Linked DNA regions of Homo sapiens: region 1 is linked to region 2. Evidence: fine-mapped expression QTL. A gene starts in region 2. The other region holds a variant in brackets. All regions are shown on one strand. Distances are between the middles of the regions. Region 1 overlaps TRAPPC9 (trafficking protein particle complex subunit 9). Region 2 holds the start of TRAPPC9 (trafficking protein particle complex subunit 9).

Evidence for each region.
Region 1: its variant is fine-mapped to the expression of TRAPPC9 in whole blood (INTERVAL, PIP 0.92).

The regions. Positions count from the first base shown.
Region 1 is chr8:140,288,634-140,304,740 of GRCh38, reverse strand. TRAPPC9 (trafficking protein particle complex subunit 9) reads left to right here. Exons shown (of 23, transcript NM_001160372.4): 11 at 4,127-4,272; 12 at 13,663-13,748. Among named protein-coding and RNA genes, the nearest start is that of TRAPPC9, 160 kb to the left of the region's middle. RefSeq lists enhancers at 1,517-2,017, 2,018-2,518, 4,687-5,187, 5,188-5,688. The variant G/A (reference allele first, on the strand shown) is at 6,693.
Region 2 is chr8:140,449,828-140,465,934 of GRCh38, reverse strand. It overlaps TRAPPC9 (trafficking protein particle complex subunit 9), which reads left to right and starts at 8,191. Exons shown (of 23, transcript NM_001160372.4): 1 at 8,191-8,296; 2 at 14,552-15,145. The coding sequence starts at 14,562. LOC105375782 (a long non-coding RNA gene) reads right to left here and starts at 1,064. Exons shown (of 2, transcript XR_928707.3): 1 at 885-1,064; 2 at 1-150. RefSeq lists silencers at 41-140, 7,337-7,646, 7,767-8,006, 8,097-8,486, 8,597-8,646 and enhancers at 637-1,836, 7,419-7,937.

The DNA of each region.
Region 1 (16,107 bases), 160 kb after region 2:
AGAGTTATGTTCTCAGGCATCAAGAAGAGCTGGTAGGTGTCTGCCGATGCTGACTGAGGGGAGCGGGCTCGTGTTGTTAATGCTCTCAGCACCTGGTCCGTGGCAGGCCTGCAGTGAATCTGTGTGCAGTAGTTAAATGTCCACATCACATGTAGGGTTGTCCCCCTCTTCCTAAATCCTTGCTCCTCATCTCCACCTGAAGGAAGGCCTGGGCAGTAGCTATGGATTAGGCCAAGGTGCTTCCTTAGGAAACAAATCCGGGACTGTCTTCATATATCAACCAAACACTTCAACGTCCTATGCCCGGAAACATGGATTTTACCAGTTTAATTAAAAAAAAAATTGGGGCTGGGCACGGTGGTTCATACCTGTAATACTGGCACTTTGGGAGGCAGAGGTGGGCAGATCACTGGAGGTCAGGAGTTCGAGACCGGCCTGGCCAACATGGCGAAACTCCGTCTCTACGAAAAATACAAAAATTAGCCGGGCGTGGTGGCAGGTGCTTGTAGTCCCAGCTACTTGGGAGGCTGAGGCAAGAGAATCACTGGAACCCAGAAGGTGGAGGTTGCAATGAGCCAAGATCATGCCACTGCATTCCAGCCTGGGCGACAAGAGCGAGACTCTGTCTCAAAAAAAAAAAAAAAAAATTAAGTCAGGCATTGCAGGTCAGCCCCTATGACATAAGAAGAGCTCAGTAATATGTACACTTGAAGACTAAAGCTCCTGTTAGTGTTACAGGGTAAGCTGGTTGAAAAATGTCTACATTGGTGAGTAAATTATCAGACCTGCTATATAGAATCGTTAAACATAAACGAATTTACTGCTGGGTTTGGCTCATAATTATGACTTTGGTTTTAGAATAGATGGTCAGAGCCATTTTCTTTTCCCTTGAGGCCTTTCTTAGTATTTGACAATAAAACTATTTTAGCAATATACAGGAAAATACTTACTTGTTCTCTGTAGCATGGGAGCATGAACTAGGCTCACCCAAAGATGGTTTCAAGTAATTCCGATGCAAGTAATGAAAAAGGAGCCAAAATACATCCCTATTTTAATTGTGTTCCAAAATTCAATTAATAAAATATTTGTTGAGTGCCTAAGACGCGCTTTTGGCCCAAGGCTAATTGCGAAGAGATGGTAGTGGCCAAGCGTGATCTCATCTGCCAGGAGGCAGCCAAGCCCACATCCTGTTGCTGTTGACCAGAGTTAAAGCAGAGGATGGTTCTGATAGAACTATAAGTGATCTTTTTTCCTTATCTATGGAATTCTCTGCAAAAATGATACAGTGTGTACACAGTAGCCAACAGTAGTCTATCAGGCCCCTAGTAAGCGTGTAGATTATTAACACACTGTAAGTCCTGGATTATTATTAAGGAAGTGGAATAAAGTTTCAGTGCCATTTCCAGTTAACCAGTGAGTCTTTAATTTGGGGGCAGTGATGGGGAGTGGGACTCATTGAATATTTTTTTTTAAGAGCTAACATTGAGCTCCTTCAACCTGGAGAAGAGCTTAAGAGTTAATGAAGGCGTTTACGTGAACAAAGACCCAAATCCTCTAGTGAGAGTGAGCTTCGAGTTGCTTTGATACGTTTAAAACTTAAACTTTTAAGTTAATTCTACCGTTTGAGGAAGGATTCTAGGCATTTATTCAGAGAGGTGTTTAGAGGCCCAAATTCAGGGTCGTGCTTCGGACTCCCAGACACCAATCAGGATGCAGCCTCCATGACTGTGTTCATGCCACTGTCCAGGATTTTCTCCCATACATGGTCTAGCGGCCAAGCCATAACCTTCCTTAAGAATTTCTTAAACCAGAGCTGTTTGGAGCTGATAAGAAATGTATAGCAGCATTCAGGATGGGAGCGGCTGGCCCCACCTTGCTACTACAGCTGGCGCGGTTGCCCTCTCCAGCTCTCTCAGTTGCTCCGGACTCGGAGCAAGCAGCCTCCACGCCGTCATACACACGAGGCACTTGAGGCCAGTCGTAGTCCCCACCCATCTCTTCTTGGATATGTTTCCCTGTGAATAAGATTGATGAATTAAATACCAAGAAACAAAAGGTGAGTGGTTGTTGACTGTCATTCCTCTCGACCGGTTCGTCTGGCGTCGCTTTCCTGATCAGCGCTCTGCGGTGCTCTGCGCGGCCCTGACGGCTGCTGTTCCTGAGGGAAGTCAGGTTTTTACGGTGTCAGCAGTTTCCAGATGGAATCTGTCAAAATCATCCTTGTCTTGGACACTTTATCCCTGGACTTCTGCTTTGCTGTTGGCAGCTTCATAGGCTAAGTACAATTTTTATTAGTTCTGCAGCTACAGACAGATAAGGTCCTGGTGCCCCTGTCCTCAGCAGGCTCACAGCTGAGTGGAAACAGATACAGAATGAAATGGTTCTGATCCGCTATGATAAAGGCATAATGAAGGGCACACACAGAGCGAAGGGAGCTGGGGAGCACCTGCTGGGTGTGCCCTTGGTCTGGAGGGCGCGGGGTTAGCACCATCTCCTGCCGTGAGTCACTGAGGGTGGTGGGTGAGAACCACGCATGTGGCAGGCTCCCCGGGGCTGGGATGTGGGTCTGTGGTGGGGATTGTCTGCCGAGTGCTGTAGGCATGCTTTGCACAGAGCAGGCTGGAATGAGGCATCTGAGGTCCCTCCTCACTGAGAGAGGTGGTGATTTTGTGGATTCTGTAAGGCAGTTGTTATTATGCAGTATAGGTTAGGGTGCACTGTGGCAGAAAAATTAACCCTGAAATCTTCGTGATTTACTGTAACAACAGTTTCTACCTCCCTCACACAAGTTTGGTGTGGGTTGGGTGGCTCTCCAGGGCAGCTGAGCTCTGGGAGGTTGCTGAGTGCTCCAGGCCGCATCTGTCTGGTGCTCCACCTTCTCAATGTCCAGCCTCCAGGATCACCATGGCCGTGCAGCCGAAGGAGAGAGCTGGGGGCTGGCCCGTCACTCTAAAGTGTGTGTCTCACAGAGGCCTCGGTGGCTCCCACTCACAACCTACTGGCCAGAGCTCCTCAGGTGGCCTCACCTTCCTGCGGAGGCCGGGAGGCGGGGGGTGGGGAGCACGTAGATTTATCACGATCAGTGTCACTATCAGTCTTCCTGTTTTCCCACCTCTGCTCCTTGTCCTTTCTGTCTGACGTCCAGGAGTGTTCCAGATCTTAACCACCGTCTTCCCAAACTGGTCACAAGGGTGACAGCACCTTCTAGTACTGTGGTTTAAGAGCATAGTGTCACCTGTTGTTACTGCTTTCCAGCCATCGGATTTGCGACAGTATACTTAGTCCCTCTTGCGTGAGTTTCCTTATTGATGACATGGAGACAATAGTAATAGTACCCAAACTAAGAAGGTGTTTGTGATGTTTAAGTGAGAGAATACATATGCAGTGGTTAGCACAGTGCCTGCTCATGCTCAGACTCCATGGATTGGTAAATTTATCTTAATGCTAGCTGGATGAATTCGAGCATGAGTACAGATTGGCAGACATCCACAGCTGGGATACTGTGGGAAGCGATGACAGATACAGATGCTGCTGCATGCGAGTAGAGCAGAGGGTGCTGTTGACCTTCTCATGGGTGCCATCTCTTCCCATGGGTCAGAGTCTGGCTGCCACTTGCTGTGGGCAGGTCCCTTGGGAAAGGGAGAGGCAGAGAGAGAAGAGCCATCCTGGGCCAGGCAGTGGGCCCTGTGCCAGGAGTCTTTAGCTGGATCCTCCCCATGGGTCCATGGGGAAGGTGGTGGCCCCACCTGCACTTTATACACAAGGAACCTACGTCTTAGAGATGGCAAGGCACGTGCCCAAAGGCACACAGCTGGTAAGTGTGAAGCGAGATTTCAAGCTGGCCTTTCTGACTCCAGACCATCCTTGGGCCCAGTTCAGGAGTCCCCAGAGGGAAGTGGCTGCTCCCCCAGTTCCAGGGAGTGATTTCCCCTGTCTGGGAGAATCTTGAGTTACTGTTGCAACACTTCCTTGCTGTGTCCTGATGCCTCGGAGTGCTTTTCCTCCCTCCATTTATCTTCCTTCTGACTGATTTACTGTTTTTCTGATACATCATGTTTGGTTATGTTTATCCTGAAACCACGCTAACCAGACAGTTGAAGTATTTGTGTTCTGTTTGAAACAACAGGCATGTGAAACTATTGAACCTTCCTGCTAGCCTCCGGCCACACAAAATGAAAAGCTTGCTGGGTCAGAACGTGTCAACCAAAAGTCCTTTCATCTATTCACCAATTATCGCACACAACCGTGGAGAAGAGCGGAACAAGAAAATAGGTAGGACGTCGATCCTGGCTTTCCCACCGTGCTCTGCCACCTGATTTCCAATGGCTTTTCTAGATTTTTAGAACAGCATTTTGAGCCAGTTCATGCATGTGCATGTGTGTGCGTGCGTGGATGTGTGCACGCATGCATATGTGTGTATATGTGTGTGCATGTGTGCATGCATGCATATGTATGTGTGCATGCGTGCATATGTGCGTGTATGTGTGTATGCATGCGTGCGTGCATGCATATGTGTGTTTACATGTGTCCATGTGTGGATGTGTGCACAGATGTGTGCGTGTGTGTGCGTGTGTGCAGTCTGTCATGGAAGTTTATTTGATTTGCTGCTTTTGGCAGGCAATTGCCCATAGATGTGATTTTAAAAAATTTATTTCATATAAGGTAATTTTGTGAAAGTTCTGGAAACCAGAAAGACTTTTGTTAACTGAGACTTATGTGAACTACAGAAGAGTGACAGTTGGAGATGTAGACTGATTTTACAAGGGCTGAAGTGACTTCTGAGTCATCAGAGAAAGATTCAGGGTTGGATGGTGTTCAGGACTGAGTGGAGGGTGAGGTAATCGTGTTATGTTCTTTTGTGAACACAGGTGATCAGGATAGTCAGTCCTGGGTTAAGCTGTGTTGTGGGAGAGACTGGGAGTGGACAATCTCTCCTGAGCTTTCCTGTGTCTGAGCTCTCGTCCCTCCTGCACCAGGGCTCAGCATGCACCACCGGCCCTGTCCCTTGGTGTCCTTCCCAAAGCCCGGCTGTAGTGCCAAGCTCCCCATCCCTTGCTGCCACAAAGACATGCCCGAGGCCCCTTGCAGGAGATTGTGACTGCCAGTCACTGGGGACCACTGCCGGCTGAGCCCACACGTCCTGTGACAGAACCTTGAGGGCCTGGAGGCTGGCCGCTGCTTGGCGACTGCCGGGGCCTCCGAGGAGTGTGAGCGGGAGGCCTGCGCAACCGCGGCGCTCTGTGTTTGATATCCAGTGCTTTCTTCTCCTTCTGTTTCTTTATTTCTACTCTTAATTCCTGTACCTCCAATTTAGGAAGAAGGCATTCCGGCTCCTTTTTCCACCATGCTTTTCTTTCCAGGACAGAGGCTTCCTGTTGCACTCGCAAGCTCACCCACACCCCGAGTTACGGACTGCAGGCGCTCCCTGACCCCCCCCTGCCCACACCCCTCCCGCTCTGTCGGGGTTTTCATGCCACCTCCTGCCACCATCACTCTGGTTTAGCTACAGGGACTCCTTTCTGGTCGTGGAAAGAAACAGGCTTGTTCCAAGCCCAGGGCTTTGGGGCTCGCTCTTTCCTTTGCCAGGAACTCGTCCCCTGCCCCTCTATCATTGGCTCTCTTGTTGTCACATCCTTTTGGTCTCTGTTCAAATGCCCCCTCCCTCAGAGGGGTGTTCTCTGATCCCAGCGCCTTGCAGGCCACTCCTCCCACCATCTCTAGCGGTGCTGTCTGGGATTCTCTTCCCAGCTTCTCTCCAGCTCAAACCCACACTGGCCCATTGATGCTTTGTCCTGCAATATCACCTGAAGCCCAGAATTCTGTCAGGCTGTGTGCAGCTGCTGTCTCCCCAGCACCTGGAGCAGTGACAAAAGAATGAATGAATGGATGGGGTACATATTATGAATCCCATTTTATAGATTTTGTTGACGGGGAAACTGATTCACGACGTTTAAGTGTCATGTCCAAGAACTCACAGGAGAACCTAGATCTCACTGTACATTTCATGTTCCTGGCAGGGCATGGTGGAATTCAAGGCAGAAGGGACAATAAGAGCATTACGTGTAGCACATCATCTTTTTTTTTTCTTTGAGACAGGGTCTAGCTCTGTCACCCAGGCTGAAGTGCAGTGGTATAATTAGGACTCACTGCTGCCTCAACCTCCTGGGCTCAGTTGATCCTCCTGCCTCAGCCTCCCGAGTGGGTGGGACCACAGGTGCATACTACCACACCCACTGATTTTTGTATTTTTTGTAGAGACGGAGTTTTGCCATGTTGCCCAGGCTGGTCTCGAATTCTTGGGGTCAAGTGAATCCCCTGCCTCGGCCTCCTAGAGAGCTGGGGTTACAGGTGGGGACCTCTGCGTCCAGCCAGCACATTGTCTTGATGAGCATTTCTCATATATTACTAGCTCTAGGATTTCTTAGCTTCTGTAAGGGTCTCATAATAAACTTCATTAACAATTTGTAAATTATCCGAATGCCTTAAAAAATAAAGTGCTTCAGAGGAAATAAAGTTGTTTGCTGAGATAAAGGGCATAACTAGGGTAGGAGTACTCAAAGAACCTTGTGCTTTTAAAAATGGTAATCATTTCTTTTATTCTAGTTGTGCTTTATAAGAGGCTATCATATGTTACCTTATTTAGTTTTTCCAGTATTTTTGGGAGATTTCATTTTTATCTCCCTTTTACAGAT[G/A]AGGAAACAAACTTAGAGAAACGACTTTTAGAAGTAACTAAAAGTTACTCAGTTAGTGACAAGCTTGATTTCACATCACAGACCACGTGTCCTGTTCCCATTAGTACCCTATGGTTTCCTCTCACGTGCACAGTAGGTGTGGGACAGACCTATTACCTGGACCTCACAGTCCTCACCCTCGGCTGGTTTTTCAGTTTAGTTCATGCAGGCAAGACACAAACGTGAGAAGTTGACTATCGAGACTAAATGTGAATAAACGCTCTCTAAAACTGTACATCTGTCAGCAGGGGTACCTGGTTACTTACACGTTGAACTCGAATGAACAATAAACACTGGGCTAACTGGGAGTGGGGTGTGGGGTGGGGGCCCCGCAGACCCTGGGGAAGCCCTCTGGAGGCTCAGACACAGCCTCCATCTGAGGAGCCGTGTGGGCTTTGCAAGGAGTGGCTCCAGCTGTTCTAGCTGTTCACTGTTAGAATGAGAAGAAAATAAAGAGACATGGGGTCATGCCCTTGAAAAACTGCAGTCAATACTGTATTTTGGAAAATTTCTGAAAATGTGAGCACTAACTATATAATCTACTCTAGAATTTGTGTGTATCTGTATGTGTGTATGTGTGTGTATGCGTGTGTATATGTGTATGCATCTGTATGTGTGTATGCATGTGTATATTGTGTGTATGCGTGTATGTGTGTGTGTCTATGCATGTGTGTGTATGAGTGTGTGCATGCATGTGTGTGTGTGTATGCGTTTTTAAAATGCCATTTTTAGTCTATTGATTCTGAAAGACACCCCAATCTTGTCTCTCCTGCCACTGCTTCTCTGATCTGGAGAACATGAGGTGACAGGAAGTGTAGGCGCTGGGTAGACGTGGTGGATGAACAGGCAGGGCCTGATGGCAGCCCCAGATGTGCTCCAGCGTGTGTTGCGGTAAGCAGGAGAGAGCTGTACAAATCCTGTCCTCACTGTGTTTTGGGGACGTCGTTTCCTGGCCTCCTGTGGGAACTCCACCTTTCCTCTCTGGAGGGCGTCTTCCGAGCTCCGTGGGGATGGGCAGGCCACCCTCAGGGCTCCTCTGTCTCCCCTGGCCCCGGACTTGCTGTCCTACGAGTGCTCAGGCTCTTCCCCCTGGGACCTTCTAGAGTCTCTGGCTGCTCTTTTGTGTTCTCATTGGGGTTGGTGATGAACTGTCTCCCCTACGGAACTTTTGAGGAAAGCTTCAGTTCTTTCGTTGAGAAAAACTTCCAGAGGTGATTTAGGAGACTGGAGGTGTGAGACTCCTCTTCTCAGGATGGGCCATGTGATTTGTGGGGCCCAGTGCAAAATGCAAACATAGGGCCTTTGTTCAAACATCACTAGGAATTCGAAGACAGCAACAGCAGAGCGTGAACCCAGATGCCAGGGCACAGGGCCCTGTGCCACTGATGGCATGGATTGTAGGCCCTGCCTCTCTGCTTTTCCTTTTCAATCTTAAGAAATTGTTGGCCGAGTGTGGTGGCCCACGCCTGTAATCCCAGCACTTTGGGAGGCTGAGGCTGGTGGATTGCTTGAGCCCAGGAGTTCGAGACCAGCCTGGCCAACATGGCAAAACCCCATCTCTACACAAAATACAAAAAAATAGCCAGGCCTGGTGGCGGGCACCTGTGGTCCCAGCTAGTTGGGAGGCTGAGGTGGGAGAATCACCTGAGCCTGGGAGGTCGAGGCTATAGTGAGCCAAGATTGTACCACTGCACTCCAGCCTGGGTGACAGAGCAAGACCCTACCTCAAAAAACAAATAAAAAGACATTGTCAAAGATTCCTTTTGTGAAAATTACAATCTGTATTTGTTGAAGAGGGCTTAAGCAAACATTATCCAGTGATTCTCAAAACTATTTGATGCTGATGCTGCCGGCATTATTATATTCCCTATTTGCAAATAAGAAAATTAAGACTGAACGAAATTTAAGTACCTGCCCCAGGTCAGATAGCTTATCAGTGACATTCCCCGGGCTCCATGCCAGGTTGCAGGACTCGATGCCCAGGGCCTTTTTTCTTTATAGTATGGCTTCTCACCATAGTAAGAAGTACCTGCTCATCTGGGCTGAGGACAAATTCAGTGGATGATGTAAGATTTTTTTCTGAGATATAACGCAAGTTTCAGCCAAAATGCACATTATTTGTTTGGTAGGAAAATGCAATTTATATCCCATAGCTTCTAATATCTTTTTGGCAGTGTACTGATCAGTGAGTGCTTGTGCAGAAGCTTGACAGATCACATAACTTTAACCTAAATTTCCAGTCTCTCTAAATGAACCTCGGTGTATAATTGGGGGAGGTATCATCACAGCAGGTGGCATAGGGTTTTGGAGATGAAGAAACTCTTGAGGGTAGTGTTTGAGACCATTTTCCACTTTAACTTGGGATAGTTCACGAGTCTTTGTGTGTTGGCTGGTGTGGCCATCATCTGAGCTACATCCATGCAAAGATGACTGCAACACTGGCCTCAGCTTGAGTGTGTTGGGTTGAAGGCCTTCTGTCATTTGTGATAGGTCTTTGTGGTGCTGCCAGGCTTAGTGCCAAGGTCGACTGCTGCCCCAGAGGCAGCGTGGTGGCCTGGAGAGGCTGTGGCTGTCAGGTGGACTTGGGCTGCACCCTGGCCCTGCAGCTCCCCACTGTGTGACCGTGGACAGCTGATTGTGCCTCTGTGGTCTGCAGTCATGCTATCTGCAGAATGGGGACATTAGAAGCTGACACGGAGGGTGGTTTTGAGGATCAAGGGAGATAATGTTTCTAAAGTCCCTGGCAGCCATTCAGTAACATTTTTGGTAGCAGTTATATGCCCTGTGCTATGTGCTGGGGATGCATTGATAAATCAGGAGTCTTTCCCGCCACATGGGTCCATACAGTTTAGCAGAAAGAGACGAACTTGTCAATAAACGCCACTGCCTGGTGCCGTGGGTCCACAGATGACAGCATGCACAGTGTGTCCCGCAACAGGGAGGGCAGGGCCTGAGATGAGGGGGTTTCAGAGAGGCTAATTCTTGTGCCTTCCCACTACTTCTAGGACAAAATAGTGAGGAAGGGCCACCACCGTGTGCTTTGACATGCTGAGGATGGAAAGGGGTTATCTCCTTCTTTCAGCAAAAATCACTTTTCAGGCTGGGTGTGGTGGCTCACGCCTGTAATTCTAGTACTCTGGGAGGCCAAGGTGGGGGGGATTAGTTGAGGTCAGGAGTTCGAGACTAGCCTGGCCAACATGGTGAATCCCTGTCTCTACTAAAAATACAAACAAATTTAGCCGGGCATGGTGGCGCACACCTGTAGTCCCAGCTACTTGGGAGGCTGAGGCAGGAGACTCGTTTGAACCCGGGAAGTGGAAGTTGCAGTGAGCCGAGATCACACCACTGCACTCCAACCTGGGTACAGAGTGATACTCCATCTCAAAAAAAGAAAAAAAAAAAGAAGAATAAATTTTTATGTAATCAACAGTTTATTTTAGATTTACCCTTTAGTAGACATGGACCATCTAAGTGTACATTATTTTTTTAGTACTCTAGAAAATGATTTTTCAAATGGCTTATTATCATCATCATCATCATCATGACCATGATAGGGCAAGCCATTTCTTAATTACCAGACGTTAGCCACTTGTTTAAAGAGAGTGACCTTCTTCATTTGTGGTGAGGAGTGGTCTGGGATGCTGACCATCAGTGGCCCCGGGCAGGCTGGGTGAGGCGGGGTCAGGCGGGCTGGGAGCATGTTGTGCTCTGGCCACTGACTTGTGTAAATGAGGAGGTCGGGTGAGCTCCCTCCCATTGAAGGTCCTCAGAAGCTGGTGGGCCTGGGAGGTGGGGGGCATGGAAGCTGGGATGAGGGAAGGACAAGACCTGAGTTTCTGGGGTCCTGAGAGGTGAAGCAGTAGGGTGAAAAGAGTGTAGGTTTTGGAGACAGACTGGAGTTCGAATCTCAGTTTTCTTGCTTCTCAGGACCATAGGACAGGCAGGCGGGCCAGCCTGTCAGGTGGGTTCTCCTTTTTTGTAGAACGGGCATAACATTTGTGCTGCTGACATAGACTGTGGCCATTCACTGCATTGTGCAGAGGCTCAGATGAGTACATGGTGGTGCAGGCATTAGGGGAGCTGTTAGCTCACCTGGTGGGCACTGTATTAATTAATTAATTAATTAATTTTAAATTTTATTATTATTATACTTTAAGTTTTAGGGTACATGTGCACAATGTGCAGGTTAGTTACATATGTATACATGTGCCATGCTGGTGCGCTGCACCCATTAACTTGTCATTTAGCATTAGGTATATCTCCTAATGCTATCCCTCCCCCGTCTCCCCACCCCACAATAGTCCCCAGAGTGTGATGTTCCCCTTCCTGTGTCCATGTGTTCTCATTGTTCAATTCCCACCTATGAGTGAGAATATGCAGTGTTTGGTTTTTTGTTTTTGCGATAGTTTACTGAGAATGATGATTTCCAATTTCATCCATGTCCCTACAAAGGACATGAACTCATCCTTTTTTATGGCTGCATAGTATTCCATGGTGTATATGTGCCACATGGCCTTAATCCAGTCTATCATTGTTGGACATTTGGGTTGGTTCCAAGTCTTTGCTATTGTGAATAGTGCTGCAATAAACATACGTGTGCATGTGTCTTTATAGCAGCATGATTTATAGTCCTTTGGGTATATACCCAGTAATGGGATGGCTGGGTCAAATGGTATTTCTGGTTCTAGATCCCTGAGGAATCGCCACACTGACTTCCACAATGGTTGAACTAGTTTACAGTCCCACCAAAAGTGTAAAAGTGTTCCTATTTCTCCACATCCTCTCCAGCACCTGTTGTTTCCTGACTTTTTAATGATCGCCATTCTAACTGGTGTGAGATGGTATCTCATTGTGGTTTTGATTTGCATTTCTCTGATGGCCAGTGATGGTGAGCATTTTTTCATGTGTTTTTTGGCTGCATAAATGTCTTCTTTTCAGAAGTGTCTGTTGATTCCTTTGCCCACTTTTTGATGGGGTTGTTTGTTTTTTTCTTGTAAATTTGTTTGAGTTCATTGTAGATTCTGGATATTAGCCCTTTGTCAGATGAGTAGGTTGCGAAAATTTTCTCCCATTTTGTAGGTTGCCTGTTCACTCTGATGGTAGTTTCTTTTGCTGTGCAGAAGCTCTTTAGTTTAATTAGATCCCATTTGTCAATTTTGTCTTTTGTTGCCATTGCTTTTGGTGTTTTAGACATGAAGTCCTTGCCCATGCCTATGTCCTGAATGGTATTGCCTAGGTTTTCTTCTAGGGTTTTTATGGTTTTAGGTCTAACGTTTAAGTCTTTAATCCATCTTGAATTAATTTTTGTATAAGGTGTAAGGAAGGGATCCAGTTTCAGCTTTCTACATATGGCTAGCCAGTTTTCCCAGCACCATTTATTAAATAGGGAATTTATGCAATGTCAACATGCCAGCTCTGGGTCAGATGTCATAGGTGTGGTGGAGTCAGTCCTCATCTCTGTGCAGGTTGCAGAGTGTGTGGGAAAAGCTGTATCTTGAGAACATGCTTATGAAAGCTCTGAAAGTTGAATAATTCTGGTCAACAGACGTTCTTATCTGCTAGAGAAGAAGCCCTCCACTGCCCTGTTAGCCACCCGTGTCTGCTCGGGGTGCCTCTGAGTTCAGAGGCCTGAATCCAGCAGCTCCTCTCGCTTGCTGTGTGGTTCCTGGGCCAATTTATTACCCTGTTTGGACCTTGAGTGTTTGCCTTGCAGTGACGGGGGTTATCATACCTATCTCAGGAGGTCCTTATGCAGAGTAATGAGATAACCTGTGTGGAAGTGCCTCACACCTAACACATGCCTGCCACCTGTTGATTGATTCTGAAATTCCTTCTGGTTTGCCTAAGAGAGGATTGTAAAGGGAGGAGGGGGTGATGGAAATTGGGACAGATGCTGAATTAGCTTTCTGTTGCTTTGTAACAAATGACCACAGACTCAGTGGCTTCAAACAACACAAATCTGCTTCCTCATGATTTGTGTGGGCTTCAGCTGGGTCCTCTGCTCAGGGATTCACAGGACTGAAATCCAAGTGGCATCTGGGGCTGTGTCCTCATCTGGAGGCTCAACTAAGGGAAGGGCCTGCTCTCACGACTCCTCAGGCCGTTCTTCATTCATTTCCTGTGATCCCCGTTCTCTTGCCAGCTGTCTGCCGGTGCTGCTTTCAGCTCCCAGAGGCTGCTCTTAGGCCCTTGCCATGTGGTCCCCTCCACAGGCCCTCTAGGCAAGGATATGGTCTCCTGTGCGGTCTCACCTGATTAGAACAAGCCCATTCAGGACAACCTTCCTTTTGATTAACTCAGAGTCAACGGATTGGGGTCCTCAATCACATCTGCAAAAACTTTCCACCTTTGTTTTACAATATAGCCTAATCATCATATTCACACTGAAGGTGGGGATTACATAGTGCATGCACACCAGGTTGTGCACACCAAGGCTGGGGGTTTTGGAGGTCGTCAGAATTCTGCCCCTGCACAGGTACTGAACTGCAGTTGACCTGGGAGTGGGTGGGGAGGAGAAGACTCCCCTCTCACAATCTTAGGGGAATAGGGCAAATCACACTCCGTGTTACTCACAAGTGACCCCAGTGCCGTCTTCCTGTGTTGCCAGCTTCTGGGCCCCGTGAAGCGCAGTGTGCCTTATGGCTCTGTACCAAGAACAGTGCCATCTGGACTGATGCCAGCATGAATGCAGCCCGCCGAAGGCAGTGACAAGCGCCATTCATGTGGCATCAAAGTGCCAGTGACAGCTACCTTGCTTTGTTTCAGAGAAAGCTGGTGGAAAAAGCAGCTTTGAATCACCCATCTCAAGAAGATCATAGAGCCTGCTGCCTCACTGAGAATGTAAATTGCCAGAGGAATAATTGGAAACCATGTAGAAAGTGAAAAAATACCAACTAATACATGGATTCATTTATGTGTGTGTATTTTCTAGATTTCCAGTGGGTTCAAGGAGATGTGTGTGAAGTTCAGCTGATGGTATATAACCCAATGCCGTTTGAACTTCGAGTTGAAAACATGGTATGTATCACCAATCATTTGACCTTTTTGGGCTAACATACAAACTTCTCATTAAAGTAGGTTTTACTTAATGTCTGAGGCACACATCTTACGATATGTGTCTGTTTTTATGTTTGTTTTGCCAAAGCATATAAGCTTATTGTAAATGAAGACCATGTTTTGTTATTCCTGTGTCTTTAGGCTTGGTTTTCAATAAATATTTGAACCTACAAAGAAACCTCTGATTTGAACACATGCCGAGCTTAGTTGATTGGGTATAAGATGTGAAATAATAATTTCGAAGCTTACGTGAGATGTGTTGAGGTTGCAAAGTCCCCATTCTGCCTGCTACTCAACGGTATCAGCATTATTTTATTGCTGCAAGATGATAAGATGACCAAGGCCCCAGGGAAGAACAAGCTGTGGAATGGGAGGATAAATGACCACACCACCACCACCACGAGCTTTCTCTTGTTTTGAAATCCTGACGTCCCATTTCTGTGCTTTGTGTAGGGTGTGAAAAATTCAGTTTGTAATCTCTTCTGTTGGAAATGCTTACCCAATTCTCTAGTCAGGGGGAAGGAGATTAGTACTGGCGCTCTAAGCTGATTCTGTGTTTTCAGAGCGGGCCCTCCCATGCCGATGTAGGTCCCATCCCTCAAGTCTTCTCTGCATTGCTGTGTGGTGCTGCTGTGTAACTTTTCAGCAGCACGCAAAGGAGGGTGCTGCGAGAATGGATGTTGTCTTTTAGAGTTTTATGACTGGTGTTCAGGGTAAGAGGCGGGCCTTTCATGCATGTATCTCGCTGAGTGCTCTTGCCACGTGTCGGTCCCCAGGCAAGGCCCTGAGGGGACAGAGATGGTCAGGCCCTGGTCCCTGCTGCGACTGTGACCAAGGCTCTGTTGGGGTGCATGAGGTGTTGCAGGCCTGTTGTGGACGGGAGTCTGCCTGGCCCTGGAGAGTCAGGGAAGGGTTCCTGGGACAGATGTGACAGCCTGGCTGTGAGTACAGGCTGAGTTGCAGTTTGCCAGGTGGACACGTGGTGGCTGTTGAAATGCTGTTTAGGCCTCTAGCACGTGGCATAGTTTCCCGAAATCTGTCTGAGCTCCTGGAAGCTCAGCTGGATGTTCAGCTTGTAGTCTCGAGGTGCGCTCGGGAGGAGCGCCTCTCCTCCTGTTGGGCGAGGACTGACCTGCAGTAGGATTTGGCTCTGGCCTTTCCTGTGGCTTTCTGTCTCAGCCTTAGTAGGGAGAAGCAGTTTAGAGAATTTTCCCCAAAGTGGTTAAAGTATCAAATGCCTGCTGCTCTTTCTTACACATTTTTTTTTTTGGTCTTAAAATGTAGCTTTCATTTTTATCTGGTTTAAAAACAATATGTGCTTATTATAACAAATGAGGAAGAGCAGGGAACAAAATAAAAAGCACCACATGGAGATAGCCCACAAATCATGGGCAAAGTTTTAAAAACTAAATTAGGAAGTATTTTAAACCTATGAAATGTTACAGGGAATAGTACACACTCGCATCTCCACCATTCACATTTAAAAAATGTTCACAGTTGGCCATATTGCTTTAGCTATTTTCAAAAGAAATAAATGCCAATATATTTGCCTAGAGACAATTGGCTCCTCGGCTTCCACCCTTGCCTGCTGCATCTGTTCCACACATAGATCATTTCACACCTTGGCTCCAAGTCCGGGCACTAAGTGTACTCACTGCCGAGAGAGTGGCTTTGCTTCTGGGTGCTTCCTGTAGACAGAGTTGGGAAAAGTCTGTGTGCATATACACATACATGAGAACACACACACACACACACACACACACACACACACACACACACTATATATATATCTAAACCCATATGCCTACATATATGTACACATGTGTATACCCCTGCGTCTGCACCATAGACATGCATGTAGCATCTGCCCTGTTCACGGGGACCCTCGCTTTCCAGCACTTCTCCAGAGGGTGCTTGCCTTCCTCCATCTGTGTGTGTCCTTTCTTCCCGCGTGAGAACTCGGGCTCCCAACATCAGCACATCTACTTAGATGCTCAGTCCTGTCATATCTGAGATAGTTGCGGGGTAGCTTTGACCATACTGCTGCAGAAAACCAACCCGCTAAAAAGAATCCAGGATTTCCCCCTTCGCCCAGGGCTTCTTTATCTCAGCAGTGTTCTGTAACTGTTATGAAACCTTGCCTGTCATTTGTTAGGTTTATTCTAATGTAGTTGACGGTTTTGATCGCTTGTTAATGATATTTTACCCAATTGCTTATTGCTAAACTATAGAAATAACGCCTTTTTTTTCTGACTCTGTCACTTTGCTAAATGTACTCGAAAGTTCAAGTTTCATTGTAGATTCCATAGCGTTTTCTGAC
Region 2 (16,107 bases):
ACGCATGAGACTTGTGACGTACATGAGGAATTCCTTGTGTGGTTATTATAGAAAGTCCTTGAGACAGTTCTTATCTCAAACATCAGCCGTCCTTTGTGCATTCCTGGCTTGGTGTGCTTGGGTCTGAGTAGAGTTGTCTCATCCTGGTAGCTGCAAGTTTCACAAAGACATGAAAGAGGAAGAAAGACTGAGACCCTGTTCTAGATAAAAGGATACTAAAAAAAGATTTGACAACTAATTGAAACAGTATGATTCTGGACAGAGGGGAAATAGCTATAAAGGACATAATTGGCACAGAGAGAGAGAGGAAGAATGTGAAAATGAGGCAAAAATGTAAAAATTGGTGATTATGGATAAAGGATATAATCACGATTCTTATTACAATGCGTGTCAATTTTGTGAATTTAAAAGTATACATATAAAGTACATATATAGTAATACATATAAATATAAACACCCCAAAAAGTGTTCCCGAAAGTAACAAGCTCTTTGAGAATAACTGATCTCTTTAAAAATGATTTATGTTTCATTATAAAATCAATGTATGTATGCTTAAAGAAAAAAAATGAGACAATATAGAAAAGTAAAAAGAAAACTCATCAGTCTCTGACACATGTCACAGCCCACAGCTACCTGGGAAGGCTGAAGAGTGCAATTTCAGCAGAATGTCAGGGGAGGAGCAGGATTGTACTAGGTGGAGAATATTCTAGACTGAAGGAACACCACAGAAAAGACAAGAAAGCGTGGAAGGGCGTGGCTTGAGGAAAAAGGTCGGGAAACTGGGGGTTGAAGAATGAACAGGTGAGATGGGTAAGGACTTCCAGAGAAGAATGACTACTGGGCTGGGGGGGGGTGACATCTGGGCCAGTCACAATTCTCCTCACGTGTCGCCTTCCACAATGCCAGGCACGCGCCTGGGGTTGAATACATATTTCTGGGCTGAATAACCGAATGTACAAAAGGCAGGCCCTAAATTTCCTCTCCGCCCCTTAGCGTGCCCCGCAGCGACATCGTCACAAGCGCGCGGCTTTTGGTCCCCGCCCTGGGCCTCAGGGCCTCGGGGCCGCGCGCGGGGCGTGGTCAGCCGGAGCTGTGACGCACCCGGGACGCAAGCCGAGGGCTCGGTTTCCACGGCAACAGGCGCTGGGCCCCTGTTTTTCCGCTCGCGCTCGTGCGTCACTTCCGGTCGCTCCCCTCTTTTTTTCAGCCTTGTGTAGGATAGGTTCCGATTGGGACCAACGTCGGGGTGGGAGTGGTACTGGGGAAGGGCTGTCCAAAATGAATCTTCGGTTCTGCGTGAAGAGCCGGGTGTCAGGCAGGTGGAGCTTGGCTTCCGTCCCCTAAGCCAATCGCTTTCCAATCCGTCCCCTAGGCGCTGCGGGAAATTGATGCCTCAGCTACCGGCGCTGGAGCATGCGCACTGCTACCGGAGGCGCCTCTGGGAAATCCAGTGCTCCGGGATTTCCACGCAGCCGGAGGGAATCCAGAGGGGCGAGTGATGGGCGTGGCATCAGGGGGCAGGGCGTACGAGTCACAGTGTTGATTGGCCGGTGAGAGGCCCGGGCGTGGAGCGGCAGCGGACCCCTGTGGCGGGCTCTGGCGTTTCATTCATTCGTTCATTCATTGAATGAACTGATTCACTCCATGTTTACTGAGTATACGCTGTGTCAGAGCTTGTGTAGGCGCTGGGGATTCAGAGCCGAGTCGGACACAGCCCCTGTCCTTAAGGAGCCCACGCTTCGACTGAAACCGCGGCGTCCCTGCCTTTCTTCGTTTGCACCTTATCTCCTCTCTTCTCTCAAGGCTGGTGTCCTTGCAGAAGGCGGCGACGCTCAGCCCATCTTACCTCAGGGACCCTCTCCGAGGCTTCCACACTTCTGAAAGCAGCTGTTGAACACGGAAAGGCCTGGCGTGGAATCCTGGCTAGCGCTCAATCACTGAGCCGCTTCACCCACTTTACATTCACCTCTGAAAGCATGATGCAGGCGTCCCCAACTTAGGGTGGCTCGACTTAGGGGATTTTTCAACTTTGCGATGGGCTTATCGGGAAGCAACCCATCATAAATCGAGGAGCATCTGTATAGTTATCTTGCAGAGGGCAGTGAGGTTTAAAATGAGCTTTGGTGCTTATCTTGAGGTTGAGTCCGAGTTTCTTCCTTACACGATTATTGTGAGGATATGAGATATTTATGCCAAGCACATTGCACATTGCCTGCCAGATAAGAGTTTCATAAATGAGGCCGGGCACGGTGGCTCACGCCTGTAATCCCAGCACTTTGGGAGGCCGAGACGGGCGGATCACTTGGGCTCAGGAGTTCCAGACTAGCCTGGGCAACGTAGGGAAACCCTGCCTCTACAAAAAAATTTACAAAAATTAGCCGGGCATGATGGGAGGCTGAAGTGGGACGTTGGCTTGAGCCCAGGAGGAAGAGGATCCACAGTGAGCCAAGATCGCACCACTGCGCTTCAGCCTGGGCCACAGAGCAAGACCCTGTCTCAAAAAAAAAAAAAAAAGATAAAAAAAAGTTTTGTAAATGGTAGTTACCATCGTGTTATTTTGAAGGAAGAGTTATGAAGGTCTAACCAAGTAGCTGGTTCTTAGTTGTGCTAAATAAGTATAGTTATTTTTTCCCTCCATAGCCTGTGAGCTAGAAAGCCCAGGTGAGACATGACACTATGGAGTCCTATAACACGGGAAGGAGAAGAAACTCTTTATGGTACTGGTGGGGGATCAAAACCCTTGAGAGGTGCTGGCTTTTGTGCAAAGTGGAGTGATTGGATCACCCAACCGGAACACCGTTAGCCAGGACATAAGCTGGAATTGTACCAGGAAAGTAAAGCTATATGGTCACCTTACCCTGAGGCTGTACAAGTAGCATGTGACAGAATTTGTCCATTCTGTCTCAAATTGCCTTCTCACACTTTCTTTAATCCTAATGATAGCCCTATGAAATGATTATCCTTATATAATAACTGAAAATATGGAAGGCAAGTAATTAGGGAGTGATGGAGCAGGGACTCTGTCCTAAACTTTTTTTTTTTTTTTTTGAGATAGGGTCTCACACTGTTGCCCAGGCTGGAGTCTAGCCTGCACTTTTTTTTTTTTTTTTTGAGACGGAGTCTTGCTCTTGTTGCCCAGGCTGGAGTGCAGTGGCACGATCTCTGCTCACTGTAGCCTCTGCCTCCCAGGTTCAAGTGATTCTCCTGCCTCAGCCTCCCGAGTAGCTGGGATTACAGGCGCCCACCACCACGCCCGGCTAATTTTTGTATTATTATTATTATTTTTAGTAGAGACGGGGTTTTGCCATGTTGGCCAGGGTGGTGTCAAACTCCTGACCTCGTGATCCACCTGCCTCGGCCTCCCAAAGTGCTGGGATTACAGGTATGAGCCACCGTACCTGTCCCAGCCTGTACTTTTAACTCACAGCTGTGATAATTGTCAACCTCAGCAAGCCTTGTGGGGCATTAGTCCCATATATAGATTATATATATATTATATGTGTGTGTGTGTATGTGTGTGTGTATATATATTTAGACAGAGTTTCACTCTTTGCTCTGTCTCCCAGGCTGGAGTGCAGTGGCACGATCGAGCTGACTATAGCCTTGACTTTCTGAGCTCAAGCAATCCTCTCACCTCAGCATCCCAAGTAGCTGGGACTACAGGTGTGCACAATCGTGCCGGCTATTTTTTAAATTTTGTGTGGAGATGGGGTCTAGCTATGTTGCTTGGGCTCATCTCTAGCTCCTGGGATCAAACAATCCTCCCTCCTTGGCCTCTCAAAATGCTGGGATTACAGACATGAGATACCGAGGCCAGCTTGGTCCTATTTCTTGAGACCCCTTGACTGGATGTTTCAGGGAAGCATATTCTGGCTGAGTTTACTGGATAATTTTCTTGTAGAGCTTGTTATGAACTGAATGTTCATGTTCTTCCCAAATTCATATGTTTAAATTTATTCCCCAATATGATCATATATGGATGTGGGGCCTTTGGGAGGTAATTAGGTCATAAGGGCAGAACCCCCATGAATGGGATTAGTGCGCTTCTAAGAAGAGACCAGGCTGGACACGGTGGCTCATGCCTGTAATCCCAGCACTTTGGGAGGCTGAGGCAGGTGGATCACCTGAGGTCAGGAGTTCGAGACCAGCCTGGCCAACATGGTGAAACTGTGCCTCTACTTAAAATACAAAATTAGGCCGGGTGCGGTGGCTCATGCCTGTAATCCCAGCACTTCGGGAGGCTGAGGCAGGCGAATCACCTGAGGTCGGGAGTTTGAGAGCAGCCTGACCAACATGGAGAAACCCTGTCTCTACTAAAAAATACAAAAAATTAGCTGGGTGTGGAGGTGCATGCCTGTAATCCCAAGTACTCAGGAGGCTGAGGCAGGAGAATCGCTTGAACCCAGGAGGTGGAGGTTGTGGTGAGCTGAGATTGCGCCACTGCACTCCAGCCTGGGCAACAAGAGTGAGACTCTATCTTAAAAAAAAAAAAAAAAAAGAGACCAGACAGCTAGTTTGCTCTCTATCTGTCATGTGAAAATACAAGAAGCCAGCCATCTGCCATTCAGAAGATGACCTTCATCACACCCTACCCATGCTGGCGCCCTGATCTCAGTGTTGTTCTAGTAATTTCTTATATCTGCCCAAACCAACTAAGACAAATAGCCACATCATCAAAGCATTCTGCCTGTTAGGACTTTTGTAGAGGGGAGAGAGTGTGAGTATGAGGTTGGACCTGGTTATTTTAGAAATTCCTTCCAACCTTAGATGTCTGTAAATTCCTTGAGGGCAGGTTTTGTATGTTTGAATTGTCACCCTTCAGAGGAGATGCTTAGGAAATGTTAAAGATGCTAAAGGAGCACAGCCCCAGGACCTAGACAGTACGGGGACTGCTTTGGATGTTCTCATTTGATCATTGTGGGCTGGGCTGTGGCAGGCTCTTACACTCTCTGAGCCTCCGTTTTCTCATTGGTAAAAATGCAGAGTAATAATACCAGCACTTTGGGAGGCCGAGGTGGGAGGATCATGAGGTCAGGAGTTCGAGACCAGCCTGACCAACACGGTGAAACCCCGTCTCTACTAAAAATACAAAAATTAGCCGAGTGTGGTGGCGCGCACCTGTAATCTCAGCTACTCAGGAGGCTGAGGCAGGAGAATCGCGTGAACCCGGGAGGTGGAGGTTGCAGTGAGCTGAGATCGTGCCACTATACTCCAGCCTGGGTGACAGAGTGAGACTCTGTCTCAAAAAAGTAAATAAATAAATTTAAAAAAAAGCAGAATAATAGTCCCCGCTCTCCTTCCCCCACAGATTTGCTGAGACAGCAACATAAATTGATTGAAGTGTGTACATTGCAAATAAGCAATGTTTCCTTTTGCCAGCTTTCAATCTTGCTTTCCAAGTTGCTTGCCTTATCCACTTACAGACAGAATAAGAAAAGACCTATGCAAAAAGTAGAGTCTGTGGGGTCTGACAGCCCTGGATTTGAATCCCTAAATAGCACCAGCCATTTGTGTGACCCCAGCCAAGTAGGGTATCCTTTCTGGACTTCAGCACTAAAAATAGCTCCCTTGCTTGGATCTTATGAGGTAAGCTTGGAGCCTAGTTTCTGCACTCAGACCTCCATTAGCAGTGGCCTTTTAAATGTATCTTTTCTGTATTCTCTGTTAAGCCCATACGCTCTTTTGTTTATTTATTCATTTAAAAAAAATAAAAAAAACCACTTTTTTTTTGAGACAGGGTCTTGCTGTCTCTCCCAGGCTAGAGTGATCATGGTTTACTGCAGCCTCGACCTGGCTGGACTCAAGCGATCCTCTTGCCTCAGTCTCCTGAGTAGCTGTGGCTACAGGTTTGTGCCATCCTGCCCAGCTAATTTTGGTATTTTTTCCAAGAGACAGAGTTTCCCTGTGTTGCCCAGGCTGGTCTTAAACTCCTGGGCTCAAGCAATCCGTCTGCTTCGGCCTCCCAAAGTGCTGGGATTACAGCTGTGAGCCACTGCACGGCCTCCATGCGGTCGTAACACCATGAGGTAGCCACGTTGGGCAGCTTGTGCGTTGTCAGGGAGACACTCTTCCTCAGCCCCTGGGCACCTCTGTTGAAAACTTCCTGGCTGTCTGGCAGGCTGGAAATCAGCTCTATTTGTTTTGCCCTGAAGATATGTTTTATTTATAACTCATTCTGACTCTGTAGAAAATAATTCAATAAAAACTCAATTGGTTTTCCACTAGCCCTGAGCAGGGATGAGGGATAGTATCTTATTTTATAACACATGTGATAATAAAACAGCCCTGGTCACATAGCCCAGAGCGGGTAAGTGCCTGCTGGCTGAAAGGAAAAATGCTGGCTCAGACCATTTCTCCCTTGCTGCTGTATGTGCTGAGAAAACCACTCCTGTCCTCTTTACTTTTCCATTTTAGGATTTTTTTTTTTTTTTTTTTTGAGATGGGCTCTCTCTGTCACCCAGGCTGGAGTGCAGTGGTGTGATCTTGGTTTACTGCAGCCCCCGCCTCCCGGGTTCAAGAGATTCTCCTGCCTCAGACTGCCTAGTAGCTGGGATTACAGGCATGTACCACCACGCTCAACTAATTTTTGTATTTTTAGTGGAGACTGGAGTTTCACCATGTTGCCCAGGATGATCTTGAACTCCTGACCTCAGGTGATCCACCCGCCTTGGCTTCCCGAAGTGCTGAGATTACAGGTGTGAGCCACCACACCCAGCCCTTTTTAGTGTTTGTTGTTGTTGTTGTTTGAGATAGAGTTTTGCAGTTGTTGCCCAGGCTGGAGTGCAATCGCATGATCTCGGCTCACTGAAACCTCTGTCTTCCAGGTTCAAGCGATTCTCCTGCCTCAGCCTGCTGAGTAGCTGGGATTACAGGCGCGCGCCACCACATCTGGCTAATTTTGTATTTTTAGTAGAGACGGGGTTTCACCATGTTGGCCAGGCTGGTCTTGAACTCCTAACCTCAAGTGATCCACCCGCCTCAGTCTCCCAAAGTGTTGGGATTACAGGTGTGAGCCATTTCTCCTGGCCAGGATTTTTTAATTGAAAAAGAAATACATGTACATGTTAAAAGATTCAAACAGAACATTAAACATACATAACGGAGAGCGGCTCTCTGTTTTCAATTTTCCCTGCGGATGCCACTGTTAATTCATGTGCTGGGCATCTTAAGTCTGTAAGCCTCCCCCATCTCCTGCTTTATTTTATTTTATTTTTGAACCCAGAGGGGTTTAAATCCTTAAATGGCTTCTGCCCGCACTTAGCAAGCTTGGCGCCTTGGCACTGAACTAACGACAGCTGTCCTAGCCCCTGTCGCCTCTTTGGAACCTTTTATGTGGATGGATTGTTGGGGCCCTCAAAGTCGGGAGTGCCATGGTGCCAGCTGGGGATCAAGACCGCGCGCCACACAGGGGGAAGCCGGCCCAGGCTGGGGCTCGCACCTCACGTGCCTCCCGGGCCCTGCGATCCTGGAGGCGCTCCCAGGCCGCGCGCGCCACGGTCACCCACCCACGTGGGGGGCACGACCGTGGGAGTCACGGGGGGTACCGTGAGGGTCACAGGGGGTGCCGCAGGGATCCACAGTGGGCTTCCGCGGGGCCTCCACCCCTGAGCTTCACAGAGGAAGTGAAATTTGAGCTGCGCGCCCTGAAGGACTGGTAAGCGGCGGGGACAGAACTGGGCCTCCTTCCAGCTGCGCCGCCCCAGGTGCAGAAGCTTTCCTCCTAGTCTCTGTTCTCTTGCTCCGGTCCCTCCCTCCCTCCTCGCTCCATCTCCCTCCATCTCCCTCCTTCCCTCCTCCTCTTCCTCCCTCCTTTCACCCCTCCTTTTTCCCTCCCTCCTCCCTCCTCCACCCTCTCCCTGTCCCCCGCTTCTCTCTCTCGCTGCCCCTCCCTCCTTCTTTCACCCCTCCTCCTCCTACTCTCCTCCTCCTCCCTCCCCGTCCCCGCTTCTCTCCCTCGCTCCTCCTCCCTCCTTCTTTCACCCCACCTTTTTCTCTCCCTCCTCCCTCCTCCTCCTCCCTCCCCATGTCCCCTCCCTCCCTGTCCCCTCTTCTCTCCCTCGCTCCTCCTTCCTCTTTTCTCCCTCGCTCCTACCCCCTTGCTTCCCTCGCGTCTCTTGCAAAACCCGGGACGGATCGGGGGCCCAGGCCTGGCCTCCGCGCACGCGCAGGAGCAGCGCCGGCTCGGCCGCCAGTAGGAAGCGCCAGCCCAGAGCCTGGGAAGTGGCCGCAGAGGCTGCTCGGCCCCGCTGCCCGCCAGGTCGTGGGCTCCCGCTCCGGGCCCGGGGCCACCGGCTGTGTAAGTGCAAAGCGGGGGGGCTCCCGGTCAGGCAATTCGGACCGGCTGCGGGGAGGGCTGCGCGGCTGGCCGTGGAGTCGGCGCGTCCCGCGGAGGGGCTCGCCCGGCCCTCACCTGTCCGGGCGGAGCCCGCCACACCTGTCCGGGTCCGCTGCCGGGCCGGGGTTCAGCGTGCACCTGCTCGAGGCGCCCTTGCTCCTGTTGGCGCTCTGCTTACATCTGTCCAAGGCCGTGTCCCACACCCGCTGAAGACTCGGCGGACACCTGTCCGGGACCCGGCCCACACCTGCTGCCCGGGCCGGCTCTGCTCTCCCGAGCTCGCGGCGGGGGTCCCCTTCCCCTCTGTGCCTCCGAGCTGTCTCCGCCTGGCTTCCCCTCCCGGGCCGTCCGCGGCGCTGGAGCCCCCCGCCCCTGGGCCTGGCTAAGCCCACTGGAGCCCGCGGGGTCTGGGACGCGCGGCTGGGGCCTGGGGCCCAGCACAGCCCACGCCCCCGGCGCTTTCCCCGCCCTGAGTTCCCGGACTTCTCCCCTAGCCCTTTCCCTCCTGTCTCCTGGATTCAAAGTGCCTGCGATCTAGCTGGGCGGCATCAGGCGGTGCTCTCTGGGATAAGCGCGCTGTCAACTCCAACTTATCCCAGGGAACCCTGGGGAGAGGAAGTCAGGCTACTGGCCTGTGGTCTTCTCCCTGTCAGCCCACCCCAATCCCCTCCACCCCTGCAGACCTTCCCAACGTGAATGTCTGTTAACCGAAAGTTTTCCCGTGTTAGGATGCGTTGTCTGTCTTCAAATGTTTCTATAGAGAGAGGAATTAAAACGCTGGAAGCAAGGCCCAGTTGAAAGGTATGGGGGAGTGACTTCCCTTCCATCCCTCACGGCCCCAGTTTAAACTGGTGACTGTCCCGTGTTTCTAAGGTAGTCATAGCTACCTATGACATCTTTATTTGTTAACCTGAAACAAAGCACCGGGTGGATGATGTTGGAGGCCCAGGAACATTGCCGTCCTAAAGATCTGGCTAGGTTTTGTTGTGTGTGTTTGTTCGTTTTTTTAATTGTGTGGAGGACTAGTAGTGTAGAGGGAAAAACAGTTGTCCGGAAACATGTAAACAATAAATGTTTCAGAAATCTAGTGTGTCAAAAATAACAGCTTCATTGAGCCTCGATTACCTGCCATAAAATCCACTGCTTTAAAGTGTACAATTCAGTGATTTTTCTTTTTTTTTTTTTTTTGAGACGGAGTCTCGCACTGTCGCCTGGGCTGGAGTGCAATGGCACGATCTTGGCTCACTGCACCCTCCGCCTCCTGGGTTCAAGCGATTCTCCTGCCTCAGCCTCCTGAGTAGCTGGGATTACAGGTGCCTGCCACCATGCCCGGCTACATTTTTTTTGTATTTTTAGTAGAGACGGGGTTTCACTCTGTTGGCCAGGCTGCTCTCGAACTCCTGACCTCGTGATCCACCCGCCTTGGCCTCCCAAAGTACTGGGATTACAGGCGTGAGCCACCATGCCTGGCCAATTCAGTAATTTTTAGTATATTCACACTTGTGTTACCATTGTCATTCCAGAACATTTTCATCACCCCAGAAAGAAACTCCATACCCATTAGCAGTCACTCCTCATTCCCCCCTCCGACAGCCCCTGGCGGCCACCGGTTTACTTTCGATATATATAGATTTGCATATTCAGGGCATTTCCTATTAATGGAATCATACAACATGTGGCCTTTTGTATTTAGCTTCTTTCATTCAGCACAGTGCTCTAAAGTTATTCATGTTGTGGCTTACATCAGCACTTTGTTCCTTTCTGTGGCTGAATAATATTCCATTGTATAGATTTAACATTTTGTGTATCAGGCAGTTGATGGACATTTGTGTTGTTTTCACTCCTTAGCTATTAAGAATAATGCTGTGCCTGGCCAGGCATGGTGGCTCACGCCTGTAATCCCAGCACTTTGGGAGGCCGAGGCGGGCAGATCACGAGGTCAAGAGATCGAGACCATCCCGGCCAACATGGTGAAACCCCCTCTCTACTAAAAATACAAAAATTAGCTGGGCATGGTGGTGGGCGCCTGTAGTCCCAGCTACTTGGGAGGCTGAGGCAGTAGAATCCCTTGAACCTGGGAGGCGGAGTTTGCAGTGAGCCGAGATCGCGCCACTGCTTTCCAGCCTGGCGACAGAGTGAGACTCCATCTCAAAACAACAAACAAACAAAAAACAAGAATAATGTTGTGCCTGTAATCCCAGCACTTTGGGAGGCTGAGGCGGGTGGATCACCTGAGATCATGAGTTCGAGACCAGCCTGGACAACATGGCAAAACCCTATCTCCACGGAAAATACAAAAATTAGCCGAGCATGGTGGCTCACGCCTGTAGTCCCAGCTACCCGGGAGGCCGAGGCATGAGAATCGCTTGAACCTGGGAGGCAGAGGTTGAGGTGAGCTGAAATCCTGCCACTGTACTCCAGCCTGGGTGACAGAGCGAAACTCCATCTCAGAAAAAGAGGAATAATACTGCTATGTACATTCCTGTACATGTTTCTGGTGTGGACACATGTTTTCAGATCTCTTGGATTGCTGGTTTTATAGTAGCTCTATGGAGGAACTACCAAGTTGAAGATACATATTTTTGCTGTTTTAATACCTGTATTAGCTTAGTCTCAGATACCAGAACTGGCTCAGTGGCAGGTGTCTTTTTTTTTTTTTTTTTAAAGAGTCTTACTTTGTCACCCAGGCTGGAGTGCAGTGGTGTGATCTCAGTTCACTGTAACCTCCTCCTCCCTGGGTTCAAGCGATTCCCGTGCCTCAGCCTCCCAAGTAGCTGGAATTATAGGTGCATGCCACCAAGCCTGGCTAATTTTTGTATTTTTAGTAGAGAAAGGGTTTTGCCATGTTGGCCAGGCTGGTCTCGAACTCCTGACCTCAGGCGATCCACTCGACTTGGCCTCCCAAAGTGTTGAGATCACAGGTGTGAGGTCAGGTTGTGTTTTTTTTTTTTTTTTTTTTGAGAGGGAGTCTTACTCTTATTGCCCAGGCTGGAGTGCAGTGGCGTGATCTCGGCTCACTGCAACCCCCATCTCCTGGGTTCAAGCGATTCTCCTGCCTCAGCCTCCTGAGTAGCTGGGATCACAGGCATGCGCCACCACGCCTGGCTAATTTTTTGTATTTTTATTAGAGACCGGGTTTCTCCATGTTGGTCAGGCTGGTCTCCAACTCCTGACCTCAAGTGATCTGCCTGCCTCCGCCTCCCAAAGTGCTGGGATTACAGGTGTGAGCCACCACACCCGGCTGATTATGCTGCTTTTTAGATGAGACGATAGTTTTTATTTTTAAATCATTTTTATTTATTAATTTTTTTGAGATGGAGTCTCGCTCTGTTACCCAGGCTGGAGTGCAGTGTTGTGATCTTGGCTCACTGCCTCCTCCACCTCCTGAGTTCAAGCAATTCTCCTGCCTCAGCCTCTGGAGTAGCTGGGACTGCGGGTGTGTGCTACCACTCCTGGCTAATTTTTGTATTTTTAATAGAGATGGGGTTTTGTCATGTTGACCAGGCTGGTCTCTAACTGCTGACCTCAAGTGATCCTCCCGCCTCTGTCTCCCAAAGTGTTGGGATTACAGGTGTGAGCCACCGTGTCTGGCCGAGATGATACTTCTAAAATAAGGCCCTTTGTTACCTGCGGTGGGCCGCGCTCTCCTCCTCTGTAGAATGAAGGCTTCGGTGTTTCTCAGCTTCTGTTAAACCTGTGCCTACTTTTGAGAAACATGAGCGCTCCAGTCTCCCCCGCTCAGTATTTTGATATGTCCTCCGAGGGGTTTTATGCCTCTTTGTTGGAAGGTGATGTGATTTTGGTTCTTTCGAAGGTGGTTTTTGTGTGCAGAAAAGACTCTTTAGGGAATCGTTGTGGGGAAAGGGCAGGAGAGAGTGGGGCGTCGTCCTTGAGAGCGTGAGCACTGGAGTCAGGGACTTGGGCTGAGTCACACACATGTAATATACTTGTGAACCGTTTAGATCCTGGGCAGAAGCAAGACATGTTGGGAGGCTAGGGTTTCCTTTTTTTAAAATTTAATTTTGTTCATACTTCTCTATCCATGTGTATTTTTGAAGTCTGTAGAGGTGGGGTTGTGATGTCCAGGATAGCCCCCGACACACAGTCCTCCTCCTCTCCGTGCAGGTGAGAAGCTTGCCATTAGAATTTCACAGAGGTCTTATAGCAATGTCACTTTAATCTTAGTGTCACCTGGGAGGGTTTTACTGCCACGATCTCTGCAGTCAGGCTTTGGTGACCTGAAGGTTATGCAGTTTTGGGCTTCCTATTTAAGAAAAAGAAAACAAAATTAAAAATGCAAAATTAGATAGAGGGCCATGGAAGGGGCCTGAAGCTGAACCCCATTAGCTCATGGTACAGCTGCCTCTGGCCATGGGGACCATGGCCAAATCCCCTCAGGAAGTGTCAGCCCACTGATGGGGACAGTGGAGGTGTGTATCGAGGCATCTTTTTCTTATTTGATACAGAGAGCTCATTTAATCTCCCTAACCTTTAAAAAAATTAGACTTTTTATTTGAGACTATAGTAGTTGTAGCTCCATGTGCATTTGTCAGAAATAATACTGAGGGATCCTATATACCTTTTGCCCAGTTTCCCCCCGTGGTGCCATGTTACAAAACCACAGTATGTTATCACAACCAGAATGTTGACTTGCTGACACCTTGAGGTATGTGTTACTATCCTCATTTTTATTCACAATGAAACTAGGGTTCAGGGAAGCACACAGGCTTGCTCCAGGTCACCCAGATCGTGCGTGTAGAGCTGGGAGTTGAATATCGGCCCTGACTTCCAGGCAGTGGGATTTCCATCATGACCGTCTGTAGGCTGGGGGCAGCATTCATTGGATTGTTCATTTGTTTGTTTGTTCACTAATCCCTTCAACAAACATGTATTGAGGATCTCCTATGAGCCAGATTCTTTCACGTGGGTCATCTAATTTAATTTTTCCCCAGCTCTGGGGAATCAGGTAATAACGTTTTCTTTTTATATCTGACAAAATTGGCTCAGAGAGGTTATGGCAACTCTCCCATTTATAAAGGAAAGGTGGTATATTTGTGTAATCTCTCCTTTTATGTTAGGCACAATGCTAGGCCCTTTACATTCGCAACCTCCTCAATCTAGATACAGTTTTATAAGGCAAGTTCTTTTTCTTTTAATTCTTTTTTTTTTTTTTTTTTTTTGAGATGCAGTCTGGCTCTGTCGCCCAGGCTGGAGTGCAGTGGCGCCATCTGGGCTCACTGCAAGCTCTGCCTCCCTGGTTCATGCCATTCTCCTGCCTCAGCCTCCCAAGTAGCTGGGACTACAGGTGCCTGCCACCACGCCGGGCTAATTTTTTGTATTTTTAGTAAAGATGGGGTTTCACCATGTTAGCCAGGATGATCTCGATCTTCTGACCTTGTGATCTGCCTGCCTCAGCTTCCCAAAGTGCTGGGATTACAGGTGTGAGCCACTGCGCCCCGCCTCTTTTTTTTTTTTTTTTGAGACGGAGTCTCACTCTGTCACCCAGGCTGGAGTGCAGTGGCGCAATCTTGGCTCACTGCAGCTTTCACCTCCCGGGTTCCAGTGATTTTCCTGCCTCAGCCTCCTGGGTAACTGGGATTACAGGCACGTGCCACCACACCCGGCTAATTTTTGTATTTTTAGTATAGGTGGGGTTTCACCATGTTGGCCAGGCTGGTCTCGAATTCCTGACCTCAAGTGATCCGCCAGCTTCGGCCTTCCAAAGTGTTAGGATTACAGGCATGAGCCACCATGCCCGGCCAAGACAAGTTCTATTATCACCACTATTTTGTAGCTGAGGAGTTCCAGGGAGCCCGGAATTCAAATCCAGATGTGATTGCATGGTGGATTTTTCTTAATATCCTGTTGAGGGGATGGGGGAGCAATTACACACGTGTTTATTCATTCACTCAACAGACATTTTTGAGCACTGACTCTTACTACTCCTGGTTAGGTGGTGAGAATAGAAAGACAAGAAACAGCCCCATTTCTGTAGAAGCTCCATGCTGAGGCCAAGGGACTGAAGGTCAACAGTTACAGCATTATGATCAGAGCTGCGACAGCCACGTGTAGAGCCCTAAGACCTGTTGATGCCACGGCTTTCCTTGGGGCTTCCCCTGCCTCTGGGTAGTGAAGGTCACAGTCACTGCCTCCCAGGGTAGGCTCTCAGCACTCAGGACTCTGTGTCTCACAGCCTCATTTCTTCTCTCTGAACAGGGACTTCAAAATGAGCGTCCCTGACTACATGCAGTGTGCTGAGGACCACCAGACGCTGCTCGTGGTGGTCCAGCCTGTGGGCATCGTCTCCGAGGAGAACTTCTTCAGGATCTATAAGAGGATTTGCTCTGTGAGTCAGATCAGCGTGCGGGACTCCCAGCGAGTCCTCTACATCCGCTACAGGCACCACTACCCACCCGAGAACAACGAGTGGGGTGACTTCCAGACCCACCGCAAAGTCGTGGGCCTCATCACCATCACAGACTGCTTCTCGGCCAAGGACTGGCCACAGACCTTTGAGAAGTTCCACGTGCAGAAGGAGATCTACGGCTCCACACTGTATGACTCCCGGCTCTTTGTCTTCGGGCTGCAGGGGGAGATCGTGGAGCAGCCGCGCACCGACGTGGCTTTCTACCCCAACTACGAGGACTGCCAGACGGTGGAGAAGAGAATCGAGGACTTCATCGAGTCACTGTTCATCGTGCTGGAGTCCAAGCGTCTGGACAGAGCCACAGACAAGTCTGGGGATAAGATCCCCCTTCTCTGTGTCCCGTTTGAGAAAAAGGACTTTGTAGGACTGGACACAGACAGCAGGTAAGCTTACCTAGAGACCCAGGCCCCTTGGCTTCCCTGCATCAGAAAGGGAAAGCACAGGGCAGAATTTCATTGCAGCAAGGAGTAGAAAGGTGTTGTCCATTGGTTTTTAAAACTAATGACTTTCTGTCAGAATCTGTTTGAGTGCTGCTAAAAAAACCAACCAAACAAAAACCAGTGACTTTTAAAGACAGAGACAGCCTTTGGTTGGGGGAGTCCTTTAGAGTTGTCTTGTACACTCCCCTCTTTTTAGTGGGGCTCCCCTCGTGGGACTCCTGGAGCTCTGTCCCATACAGCAGCCACAGCCAGTTGTGGCTTTTGGGCACTAGACACGAGGCTAGTTTTAGTTGAGATGGGCTGTGAATAAAACCCACGCCAGATTTTGAGACTTACTTCTGAAAAAATAAACTTTCTTGCTAATTTTTTTTTGAGACAGAGTCTTACTCTGTCTCTCAGGCTGGAGTGCAGTGGCGCGATCTTGGCTCAGTGCAACGTGCACCTCCCGGGTTCAAGTGATTCTCATGCCTCAGCCTCCCAAGTAGCTGGGACTACAGGCAGGTGCCACCATGCCTGGCTAAGTTTTGTATCTTTAATAGAGACAGGATCTTGCCACGTTGGCCAGGCTGGTCTTGAACTCCTGGCCTTGAGTGATCTGCCTGCCTTGGCCTCCCAAAGTGCTGGGATTACAGGTGTGAGCCTCTGTGCCTGGCCAACTTTCTTGCTAATATGTTTTATACAGATTACATGTTGAAATGATAGTATTTTACATATCTTAGGTTAAATAAACTATATTTTAAAAATCAGTATCAACTGTTTCATTCTTACTTTTAAAAATGTGGCAACTAGAAACTGAAATGTACTTACGTGGCTTGCATTTTATTTCTGTTGGACAGCACTGTGCTAGAGCACAGTTTGAACAGTTTTATTCAGTCTCGTCCCTTTGGTTCACAGATGAGAGGGTG